Linked DNA regions of Homo sapiens: all the other regions are linked to region 2. Evidence: fine-mapped expression QTL. A gene starts in region 2. Each other region holds a variant in brackets. All regions are shown on one strand. Distances are between the middles of the regions.

Region 1 (4,246 bases), 100 kb before region 2:
CCCTGAATGGTAGGCATCATTCATCCCATTTTAAAAATAGGAAACCAAAGGCAGAGAAGTTAAGTGATTGTCCAACATCATGCAGTTAGCAAGAAGTAGGACCAGGATTCAGTCAGGTCAGCCCGAATGCAAAGTCTGTGCTATTCGCACCACACCACACTGACTGCTGAGGACACTGTATATATTATCCTCTCCAAGCAAACCATAAGTAGGAATTTAATAACTGAATCTGCTAATGCCTACTTCTTCTGCAAGATAACTCTTTGGCTTGCAAAATATAGTTGAGTATTTTGATCTTTTTTTAAGAAGTTATTTGGTGGGAGGATCACCTGAGGTCGGGAGTTCGAGACCAGCCTGATCAATATGGAGAAACCCTGTCTCTACTAAAATACAAAAAATTAGCCAGGCATGGTGATGCATGCCTGTAATCCCAGCTACTCGGGAGGCTGAGGCAGGAGAATTACTGGAATCCAGGAGGCAGAGGGTGTGGTGAGACGAGATCATGCCATTGCTCTCCAGCCTGGGCAACAATAAAACAAAAAAAAAAACAAAAAAGATGCTAATTTATTTTTTATACGTGTGTGTGTGTGTGTGTGTCTGTATTACTTTAAAACTTGACTAGGAAAGGTAGTAAGATAGACAATGAAAAATATTCATGTTAGAGTAAGTGAAAATAACCATGTGATGAGAAAAAAAGATTAGGGGGCAATACATTCACAGTTGTTTCCACTACAGGAAAATAATAATCTGGTTTTTACATTTTCTTCTTTATACTTTTATTTTTCAAGTGTTATTTTTATAATCAAAAACAAGTAATGTTATGCTGTTGATGTGATTTCTGGTTCAGACAAAGGAAATTTTAAATGCTACTTAAAAGTTTCAACATGCTGCTAAATGGCTATGGTATGACCTATCAAAAATGGACACTCAAATAGAAATAAAAATACATTGGCACCGCCTTGTCACTCATCAGTGAGTGATCATGGACAAGCACTCTGGAGCCTAATTTCCTCACAGGACCTTGGAGTCAGGTATACAACCTGTCCAATGTATCAAACTATCAAAATTTATACAAAAGGACATTGTTACAGTAATGATAACCACAGTCACAAAAAAGATACAATTAGTTATCATTTTAGTTACCCATGTCTCTATGTAATTACAGACATTTGCATGGTATGTAAATCCAACATTGGCATTTTAAAATTAATCCTTAAAATATTCTGTGATTTAACAATTTTTATTCCCATTGAAGCGCATAAAGGAAAAGAGTGTTATCTTGATCACAGGGCCAATAAATGATAGGAAAATCTCAAGCATGATCTTTACCATCTAAATCCCATTCTTTTTAATATTCCATGAACAAGGCAAAAGTATATTAGGCATTATTTAATTCCACCCAAAGAGATTAAAAACCCCAAAGGCAAATGATAGGGTAAATTCTAGATATCTCAAAACCCTTCATCTTAAAATAATTTGAGCAATCTTATTTTTGAAATTAGACAAACTAGCTAGGTCTAATATTGCTCACATTTCTAATGTTCATCCTGCTCTTTCTATTCCCACAGTACGTTTTTCATGAGTCTCAGGACTTATTTCTAATGTTATGATTTATAAACTTTCTCTGTAATTTCAATCACATAAAATATTACTTTAATCACAGGAAGCATTCATACATATGAACAAAGAAAGTAATAAATAAAAATGAAATTAGTTGTTTAGGAGAGTAAGAACTACAGGTAACTTTCCCTTAAAACTTCAGGTAAAGTTTTCATCTTTTTTTTTTTTTTTTTTTGGAGAAAGAAATAAAAGAGAACAAAATGGAAAGAGGAAGAAATGGCTTGGCATACTGAATTCATACAGTATATCCTAAAACAATCACCAAACTCATTATGTGGAATTTAGGACATATGTTGATAAAGCCAGAGGTGTCATTTGCAACTCTGCCCATGACTCACATATTATATTAGTCTTGGTTCTCTAGAGAAACAGAACTAATAAGACAGATAGATATATAGGGAAGTTTATTAAGGAGTGTTAACTCACACAATCATAAGGTCCCACAATAGGCTGTTTGCAAGCTGAGGAGCAAGGAAACCAGCCCCAGTCCCAAAGCCGAAGAACTTGGAGTTCAATGTTCGAGAACAGGAAGCATCTAGCATGGGAGAAGCAGGTAGGCTGGGAGGCTAAGTCAATT[T/C]AGCCTTTTCATGTTTTTCTGCCTGCTTTATATCCTGGCTGGGCTGGCAGTTGATTAGATGATGACCACCCAGATTAAGGGTGGGTCTGCCTTTCCCAGCCTTCTGACTCAAATGTTAATCTCCTTCACAGACACACCCTCACAGACACACCCAGGATCAACATTTTTCATCCTTCAACCCAACTGAGTTGACATTCAGTATGAACCATCATAAATATCAATACAAATGTCTGTTGATCAAGCATTTTAAGAACCATAGGGCAGAATCTGGAACATTTCTGGTATTTCCTATAAAGACATCACAGACTATTGGACCTAAATCAGTAATCATCCACTATAAGTCAATAAGAAAGATACTTCAAAAGGAACAATGAACTAAACGTCAATTGAAACTTACTTCTATGATTTTTAAAGTACTGAGAGAGGAAAAGCTTTCCTAGGAGACCAGAACTGTCAGCCAGATGACCTTAGTCTAACAGACCAAAATACAAGTAGAGGACACACCATCCTTATTTCTAAACTTTTGCCTTGTCAAAATTCCCTAGAGAAGCAACTACGGCCTATCTATTTTCAAAGAGGCATTGAGAAAGGGAAAAAAGTCACTTTCTATCACTTCTAACATAAATGGTGAAATTGAGAATGAATCAAACCAATCAATATCAAGAAAAGAACCTGAGTAAATAGAAAGGTGATATAGTCTTCTAGGAAACATGGAGGTCGTTTAATGTAACACAGGTTAAAATGACAATAGAAATGATATAACAACTCTACCAAAATTAAAATATTTAAAAGGAATCCAAAATATTATTGTGTAGAGAAGAAAAAATGGTATGTATGAGAGAGCTCAAGATGAAAATATTTAACTTAAACCTCGTTTCTCATATTTTAGTAGATAATTTGAACTCTTCAACCCTAGAAGAACCTAAGAAAGCAAAGAGCCTATTAAAGATATTGAAATATTATGTTGCTTATACCTGTAAATTTTAGATGCTCACTTTCAAAGCTACGCCAATGATATGTCCATCAATTTAAGCTCACAAACTAGCAAAACAAGCAAATTGCAACAACTTAGTGATAGAATTTTTATAAACATTCACCTATTTAATACATAACCAAAATTTTAAAATTCTTATAAGCCATTCTTAGGAATACAACATTTTGAAACATCTAAATATATTGGAATGTCTGTTCTGATGAGCCATATTGACTGCATTATACTTAGAATATTTCAAAAGCATTAATTAAATAAAAATAGACCCTGAAAAAATGCACAAACTACTGTTTGTCCAAATAAAGTTCATTAAGTAATGAACAGTATCCATAAGAAAATTTTTCTTTGAAAATGACAGAAGAAAAATTTGACCCTTTCAAATTACAAATGCCAAAATTGGTCTTTAATTCTCTTTGAATTAAAGGGATCTTGAGAGAATTTAAGTACACAATTCCTGAATGCTATGCCTTTCAAACTTTGCCCATATGACTGTAAGTTTGTCAAGGTAAATCTCCCACACATCAGAAAGCATTGGGAAAATGGTTCTCATTTAAATAAGATACCAATAAGGCAGTCTCAAAATTAAATGTATTACTTCATGCCAAAAAATAAGAAATGTTGTCTTTTATAAATGCTTGTATCATTGCAAGACAGCAGTCACTAAGAACACAGAAATTAGACTGGGAACACTTTCATTAAAGAAGAGAACAGTGGCTCACACCTGTAATCCCAGCACTTTGGGAGGCCGAGGCCAGTGGATCACCTGAGGTCGGGAGTTCAAGACCAGCCTGACCAACATGGAGAAACCCCATCTCTACTAAATACAAAAAATTAGCCAGGTGTGGTGGCGCATGCCTGTAATCCCAGCTACTCGGGAGACTGAGGCAGGAGAATCGCTAGAACTTGGGAGGCAGAGGTTGCGGTGAGCCGAGATACCGCCATTGTCCTCCAGCCTGGACAACAAGAGCGAAACTCCATCTCAAAAAAAAAAAAAAAAAAAAGAAGAAGAAGAGGAGAATCCACCCTACAAACAAGCCTGTCAGAAACTTCATAATTAG
Region 2 (4,246 bases):
TTTCTGTTGCCAGGCTGAACTGCAGTGGCGCGATCTCAGCTCACTGCAACCTCCGCCTCCCGGGTTCACTCCATTCTCCTGCCTCAGCCTCCTGAGTAGCTGGGACTGACTAAAGGTGCGCGCCACCACACCCAGCTAATTTTTGTATTTTTAGTAGAGACAGGGTTTCACCATGTTGGCCAGGATGGTCTTGATCTCTTGACCTCGTGATCCGCCCGCCTCAGCCTCCCAATGTGCTGGGATTACAGGCATGAGCCACCCGGGTACCTTGCCTAAACAAAGGAGAGTAGTCCAAGGGAACTGTGAAAGGCCCCTGCATGAGAGGAAGGGAGGGTTTGTTGTGTGTGTGTGGTTTTTGTTTTATTTTGGTAGGGTTTGGGTTCCTAATTACTCTACAAGGTGCACCAGAATTGGAGATATTTGTCCAAATTCATAAATTTTGAAAGAGAAAAAGAAATACATTCAGAGTACTATTATTCCCATTTCAAGATTGAAGAAATTCAGATTAAATTATTCTAATTTCGTGAGGAAGCTAGCATTTGAACTCAGTTCTCACGCCATATTCCAAATTGCCACACCAGATATCTGGCAGATTTAGGGAAGAGGAAAAAATTAAGCATCAATCTACCTGTGGCACCGTGTAATACCATTCTCAGGATTTTAACTTCTAACTTACTCTCTTTGAAACAGCGATCACAAAGGAATAGACAAGGGGACCACAAATCATTAAAACTGCTGTCAAACAAAATAGAGAACATTTTTCCTAAAAGTTATTTGTGTAGCGAATAACAAGTTTGACGTTCTCACTGGAAGGAAGAATATGAATAAATGAACGAGCTCCAGTAAGAAGTCTACAACCTGTCTTAGTGGTTCACTAAACTCACGTTTATTGAATGATTGTGTGGTTTCTCTGCAAAGAGCAGTTTTGGACGAAAAGACCCGAGGTTATTTACAAAACAAGAAGCTCACATAGGAACTGATCCAGTAAGGAGGATCCCGAAGAGAGACAGACAAATCATTTTTTGCATTGTTTTGTTGGAAACGCCGGGCACTGCCAACAGTGTTTTACATCACTGTTCCTCAAATTTTAATGTGCATTTGATTCCTGGAAATCTTGTTAAAATATAAGTTTTGATTCCATAAGTCTGGTGTGGAGCTGAGACCCTGAATTTCTAAAAAGCTCCCCAAAGATACCCACACTGTCAGTAGGGGTGGGAGTGGCGGAGCCGACTACAGGGGAAAGCTTCACTTTGAGTGATCGAGAGGCTCTACGCAACTGGAAAGAAGAAACTCAAAATCCCTCGTACAGAGAGAGACTCACCAGCCCCCGACCCCCGGGCAGCAGTAAAGCGAGCTGGGCACTGCGCCTAGAATCCCAGTTCTTACCCCAGGATCAGAAGCGCGCTCTGCAGCTGTCCCCGCACCTCCAGAAACACGCGCGTCTCCGCCGCAGAAGCCGCCATGGCAGGCTTCCAGTCCCAGACCGGACCAAGCTGGAGGTTCCGAGGGGCCCGGGTCAACAGGACCAGGAGAGGTTCCACGTGCGGACCAACCAGCGGCAGCCCCGCTGCGGCGCAGGCGCCTGTGCCAGATCGCAGGGCTGGCGCCGCCTACCAGCTCACAGCGCCACCTGCCGGCCGGAGAGTGCACCACCGAGAAGGCGCGTGACCCCGGAGGCCGGGGCGGGGCGCGCATTTTCAAAACCAGGCTTTGGCCCAGAGTGCTGAGAAAGGTGGGCGGCGAGAGGCTAGCTATCGCCCCACTCTGCTTCTTATGAGCGTGACTTGGCGCGTTAGCATCCCTGGAAATGACCATAAAAATCAGACCCAGGGTTCACACCTTTGGCTAGCTCGAAGGGAGGGAGATGATGGAGGCAAGTGTTACAGGTGGGCTTTGTCCCCAGGAGATGCAAGAACAGAATTCCCGGCCCCAAACCCACTTTATCTTGGTCTCTTTATGAACAAGGGTCGTTTGTTAGCCTCTATCTAAAGCGACAAAATTTTCAAGAATTGACTTGCCATTGCTTCTCAACTTAGACAGGATAGCTCCAAAATTGAAACAGGTGCAAAAATATAAGGAAGTTCTTTGTTACCTAATGCAGAAGAGTGTGGCTGAAGTCTATCAGGACTAACCATTTTTTAGGGGGTAAAAAAGGAAGATGAGAATGATTACGTATGTACAGCTCCACTATTCACTTTCACAAAAGTAAAAACTAAGAGAAGTTGGAGAAGTTTACTACCAGAAGATAGTTTTGAAAAGTTTGACACAGTAAAGAACCTGGTATAATGTAAATACTTATAATGAAGAACTATTAAAATATAAGACCGGGTAGAATTACAATAGGGCTTCTTAAAAACAAGGAGCTGCTTTTATTTATTTATTTTTTTTCGGAGTCTCGCTCTGTCGCCAAGGCTGGAGTGCAGTGGCGCGATCTCGGCTCACTGCAACCTCTGCCTCCTGGGTTCAAGCGATTCTCCTGCTTCAGCCTCCCGAGTAGCTGGGATTACAGGCGCACGCGCCACCATGCCCGGCTAATTTTTCTGTTTTTGGTAGATCCGCCCACCTTGGCCTCCCAAAGTGCTGAGATTACAGGTGTGAGCCACCATGCCCAGCCTAAACCATAAATAAATTCTAAATAAATAAATCCTGTCATATATTTTAAGATAATAGCTTGACAATTTTTCTAAAATCAGTATTTGGGGTGATTAAAGTTTATTATGTTGATGCACAAATTATTATATCTATCACAATAATTTGAAGTTATAGATGGAAGCAACAACTCACTTAAAAAAATAAAGTTTACTATTATTTGGTCTCAAATAATTCATCTATTTGAAGGATGATGATTTCAACTCTTCATATCTTCCACCTTTAGTACCCGAGGCTATTGAATGCTTAAATATTGACACATTATATTGAAATATACAACTTCCGTAGCACAACTTACTCTTTATAATTGTTTTGTTAGCTTAAAAGATTTTTATATATTTAGTTACGTATTTGTAAAAACTTTCATTTTTTTACGGTATGGTGTTGGCAAAACGGTGCAATTTACCTTGGAGTAACTAGATATGATTGATAGAGCTCTAGACTCAAAATAGTTCCAAATCTGACACCAACTACTTGTCTCCTAACTTCACAAGTCTCCTAACCTCTCTGGGATGCAGGTTACTCATATGAAATATTGAGAAACTATTCAAATAATATTTAAAAGCTGTTTTCAGTTCCTATTATCTCTTCAAATGAAAACATCTGCTAACCCCCTTTCTAGCCACTCCTGAAATTGGTAGCCATGGCCGCTTCCCGCGACAGTCCACTTGAGGGCGCTGTGGCAACAGCTAGCGCCGGGAGGCAGGAAGCCGATCGGGGGCGGGGATCGAAGGCCTCAGACGTCGACGCCGGCGTGGGCGCGAGCACGGTGCACTCTGGGAGCTGTCACTAGGCCCTTCGGCTCCCGGTCTCGGTGTAGCTGCCGTGGTTGCCAGGAGAGCTGCGCCGGCGAGAAGCGGCCGAGCCAGCAGCAGGTAAAAGCGTCCCTGCCCCCAGTGCGGCCGCTAGGCTGGTAGCCGGCTCCGAGCATCCTTCTCGGCCCGGCTAGGTCCTGAGCCGCGGGGACGCCTTGCGAGTCTGACTGCTGTGGCGTCGGGGGTGTTGCCGCTCCGGCCCCGCCAGGAGCTGCGAAGCTGGTCGGCCGCCCTCTGGTTTACGGGGAGTCGGGAGCTGCGCGGGGACTGGAGGGCCAGGGCTGGGGCCGGGGCCTGGGCCGGGCAGAGGCGCGAGGGCGGCCCCAGGTGAGGGAGGCCGGAGGCGGGGCCGGGGAGCCGGGGACAGGTCCCGAGCCTCCCCTGCTGGGGCGGAGCGGTGCGCAAGGCTGGGGCAGAGGTCGCACCTGTGCGATGGAGGCGTGCGGAGTACCCTCTTTGTTGAAGGAATCGAGGCGTTGTGCCTTCTCGGCTGGTGGGTTCTTTTAGCATTGAGGAGACACGTAGGCCCGCGATGGTTCATGTTCTCCGTGGGGCTTAGAAAGGAGTACCGAAGTTTATTAAGAGGAAGTCAGAAGAGTCAAACGGGTGTTGTTAACAATTATCACCTTTGATTCCTAAGCCTTTTAAAGTTGCAACATAACAATAGTCACTTGTTCGGGCCTCCTCCATTCCTGTACCCTGAGGGGGGCGGGGAATGGCACACAACTATTTTTCTTAAGCTAAGTAAATTGTGTTTGAACATTTTTACACTATCTTAGAGT
Region 3 (4,246 bases), 180 kb before region 2:
ACCCTCTCACTTTTAACTACCGCATCTACATTTTAGAGCTCAAAAAGCCCTCAAGGGTACAAAAAATATATATTTTCTGTTCTTGTTGTGCCTGAGCACTGAGAAGTCAGGAGGAAGGGGATTGTTCTGCAGGTTCATGATGGCATTCAAAGCTTTCCACAATCTGACAAGAACTCTTTCCTATCTTATTCACAGTCCAATCTCAATTCCTCCAATCCAGCCAAATGTTCTTACTATTTCAAAGTTTCATTCTTCCAGAGTGTCTTATTCTTCCCATCTTTCCAAATCTTAATAATCACTTAAGGCCCACATAAAATCTTGCCTCATCCAGACAAGGATGCCTTCTCTGTCCATTGGGAGGGCCCTCTTTGTACTCCACAACTGCTGGGGTCCACACCAGCAGTTTGATATCATCACTCACTGCTTTGCCAGTTTCTCTTGTGTGTTTTTTCTCACCTCCATTCTTAATTTTACTTTCATACAAAGCAATCTCTAATGACAGTACTCATTTCCGGAACACTTTATGTCTGTGTAAGGAATACAACCACTGTGGCAAAACCACAGGTGGTAGCCTTTGCTTACGTAAGGCAGCGGTCCTCAACCTTTTTGGCACCAGGGACTGGTTTTGTGGAAGACAATTTTTCCATGGACCTGTGGTGGAAGGGGGATGAAACTGTTCCACTTCAGATCACCAGCCATTGGTTAGGTTCTTATAAGGAGCACGCAACCTAGATCCCTCTCATATGCAATTCAGAACAAGGTTCACCTCCTATGGGAATCTAATGCCACCTGATCTGACAGGAGGCAAAGCTCAGGCAGTAATGCTTCCTCACCCTCCACTCACCTCCTGCTGTGTAGCCCAGTTCCTAATAGGACACAGGCTGGTACTGGTCCATAGCCCGGGGGTTGGAGACCCCTGATGTAGAGAACATCCTTGGCTTGATGGAATAAAGGGAAAAAAGTAAACACAAGCATTGAAACTTGCTCTTCTAAAATTGCCAGGAGCAATTGTCACGGGATTGGAAAGATACGTAGGAAATGTGTTTTCTTTATCAAGTTCTCTTTGTTTCCTCTAGTGATTTTTAACACACACATTTCTAACTTACTGGTGATTTCATTAGAAATTAAAAAAAGTTTCAACTTAATTTTCTCATGATATCAACAATAAATGTCTCTTGCCTGTGCTAGACAAAGTGTCTATGCTTGGCCACTATTTCGTTTCTTCTTGACATCATCACTTTTCAGATGGTATTGAATTGAAATGTGGAATTTTATTTCAATTCTTTTGTTACATTATGAACCTTATTTCAAGAATTTTTTTAACATTGGCACTAAACAGAGTATGTATAATCAAATGAACAATTCAGAGAATTTATAGTGCCCTATATTGAGTTTATTATTCAAAATACTGGTATTTGGGCCTAGTGCAGTGGCTCATGCCTGTATCTCAGCACTTTGGGAGGCTAAGGCGGGTGGACCACTTGAGGCCAGAAGTTCAAGACCAGCCTGGCCAACATGGTGAAACCCTGTCTCTACTAAAAATACCAAAAAAAATAAAAAATAAAAAATAAAAGCTGGGTGTGGTGGCAGGTGCCTGTAGTCTACTTGGGAGGCTGAGGCAGGAGAATCACTTAAACCCAGGAGGCAGAGACTACAGTGAGCTGAGATTGTGCTACTGCTACTGCACTCCAGACGGCCACAGAGCAAGACTGTCTCAAAAAAAAAAAAAAAAAGGGAGAGAGAGAAAAAACAAACAAACCCTGTATTTGGAGGAGACAGTAACAGTTTTTTTTTTTTTTTTTTTTTTTCAGAAAGAATAGTGGGCTGGGCGCGGTGGCTCACACCTATAATCCCAGCACTTTGGGAGGCCGAGGCAGGCAGATCACTTGAGGTCAGGCGCTCGAGACCAGTCTGGCCAACATGGTGAAATCCCATTGCTACTAAAAATACAAAAATTAGCCGGGCGTGGTGGTGCACGCCTACAATCCCAGCTACTCGGGAGGCTGAGGCAAGAGAATCACTTGAACCCAGGAGATGGAGGTTGCGGTGAGCGAAGATGGCGCCACTGCACTCCATCCTGGGCAACAGAGAGATACTCCATCCCCCCAAAAAAAAAGAAAGAAAAGAAAAGAATATTGGATGGTATACTTTCTGAGTCCAATATGTACTACTATGGAACTTAAAACTAATGATGACTAATTTTGTTACTTA[T/C]ATCACCATCCTATGAAGAGAAAGTTTCAAGTGAAGGGGTCACACAGTGATCAACCCCAGAGTGTGGGCTCAGGAAAGGGAGCACAGGAGTGATCAAAGCTGGCATTTCTGGCTCTTCTTCCTAGAAATGCTATTACCTAGGAAGAGGGGAAGAGGGTGTGGGAAATGTAAGGGGAGGTACAGGTCTGAGAGATCCTTTTCACCAAAGACTGGTTCCTTTCTCTGGTTTCCAGTGAAAAAAGAGAGAAGATTCCACCTTTTTTTTTGTGGGCACTTATAAGGCGCTTTCTATTTACAATTTCTTTCCCAGTTTCAATCTGCAGAAAGCCTGCCATGTCCTTTTTAGGCTGGGAAGGGTACTGGGCAGAGGGTGACAAGCCCTGTTTTCCTTGAGTTTAGGAAGAGTTCAGCCAGAACCTCCATATAGGCAATCTACTGCTGCTACTGCTTGAAATTAAGTTAACCACTTGTGGTGTTCATGATTTAGGTTTTTTTTTTTTAAGCAGATTTATTGAAATTTGCAACCAAAACACAAATAGAGTGCATACAAATTATGACAATAAAAATCATTTTCACCTTTTTTCTAAAATAAGTAATAAAATAGAAAATAGTTTTAATCTATGAAATGTTAAAAAGGGATCAAATAAAAATATTGAAATATTTATAGAAAGAAAGTAATCAGGCTTTGTATAATAGGGGAGAAAGGTGAATAAAGAAAATGTAGTCATCTGGCCAGCAGTTGTCATTCTGACCAGAAAGGCTGCCAAAGGTCCCAGGAAGGCTACTAAAAGACACGACTAGGACACAAATCCTGCCCTCTGCTTATTGTACCTTGTAACCAAAGGATCCTAGAATAAGGGTGGCCTTGAAAATGGGTTTCATAATTTATATGTAATGGTATTGAGAACAAATTGATTTAGTTTATTCCAGAATGGAAATAGGGACATATTTTTAAAAGAATGGTAGTACAGTTTAGATGTTTTTAAAAATGTTGTTTTGAACAATTATGTTTGTCATTCTTCTTAAAACTGGAGGATTTACCTCTTATGACTGATTTCCATTAACTCCCTCTTACTTTTTCTCCCAGATTAAGTTTTGATGATGAGCTCTGATTCAGTAGATGAAATCTCAAATATATCTTACAATGTACAATGTATCATAAAAGGTAAAACCTATCTTAAAATGTAAAAGCATCTTAAAATGTAAACCAAGAGAAATGGTTACATTAAATCATATTGAGTGGTCTTGTGTATTTAAGATTTAAGAATGTGTAGAACTCTTAAATAAGCATCTAGTGGGACACACTCCTCTGATGGGTAACACTAATGGTGATTCTTCTCTAACTATAGACTAAGATGTACCAATCATTCCTACATTCCTGAATAACAACGAAATGTGGATCTCAATTAATATTTGTTATACATTAGGCGCAAAAACAAATGTACAGGAACAGCAACTAGGCTGGCTTTATCATGCAAAAGGAAAACTATTTAACACTGTCAGCACTTTTTACAACAGTGGCTACTGAGCAGACTTAATTACCAAAAGGCCTGCACAAGGCCAGTTACATCAGCATGTCTGGGTCTAATCGGATTCTTTTTTCTGGTATCTATGGAATCAAACACGCTTTGCTAATATCGGTGGATCCTTGTTTAGTCAAGCTACTTTTGGCAAAATGATGCAAGGCTGCAGTTTGCATGTGATCTGTTGGCCTTTAACAATGCAGCTCTTGATGGAATTGAATTATTTTAACCATATATGGTACTATACAGTATACATACACTTTAAGCTCATTTCAGCCATCCCTGTCTGAAATAGCACCTAATCTTTCTTAACCCATCTTTGTCTTATTGTGCTTTGCAGAAATTATATATAGTAATTTTATGATAAAACATAGTACTTCTATTTTTGTCTGCTGCCTCCATGAGAATGTAAGCTCGATGCGGGCAAGGACTTTGTCTTATTATCTCTATCTGCAGTACCTGTAACTATGCTTGAAATGTAGTAGATGTTCTAAAAGTCCTCACTGAATGAA

The links. PIP is the estimated chance that this variant, and not a neighbour inherited with it, causes the effect.
Region 1: its variant is the best candidate, but not a certain one, in a credible set for the expression of UBE3D in esophagus mucosa (GTEx, PIP 0.67).
Region 3: its variant is the best candidate, but not a certain one, in a credible set for the expression of UBE3D in whole blood (INTERVAL, PIP 0.84).

The regions. Positions count from the first base shown.
Region 1 is chr6:82,961,415-82,965,660 of GRCh38, forward strand. All of the region lies in intron 8 of UBE3D (ubiquitin protein ligase E3D), which reads right to left. Among named protein-coding and RNA genes, the nearest start is that of UBE3D, 100 kb to the right of the region's middle. The variant T/C (reference allele first, on the strand shown) is at 2,198.
Region 2 is chr6:83,064,256-83,068,501 of GRCh38, forward strand. UBE3D (ubiquitin protein ligase E3D) reads right to left here and starts at 1,586. Exons shown (of 10, transcript NM_198920.3): 1 at 1,387-1,586. The coding sequence starts at 1,463. DOP1A (DOP1 leucine zipper like protein A) reads left to right here and starts at 3,416. Exons shown (of 39, transcript NM_015018.4): 1 at 3,416-3,524. RefSeq lists enhancers at 3,225-3,294, 3,325-3,474 and a silencer at 3,645-3,914.
Region 3 is chr6:82,885,605-82,889,850 of GRCh38, forward strand. It overlaps a transcript of UBE3D not described here. Among named protein-coding and RNA genes, the nearest start is that of UBE3D, 180 kb to the right of the region's middle. The variant T/C (reference allele first, on the strand shown) is at 2,212.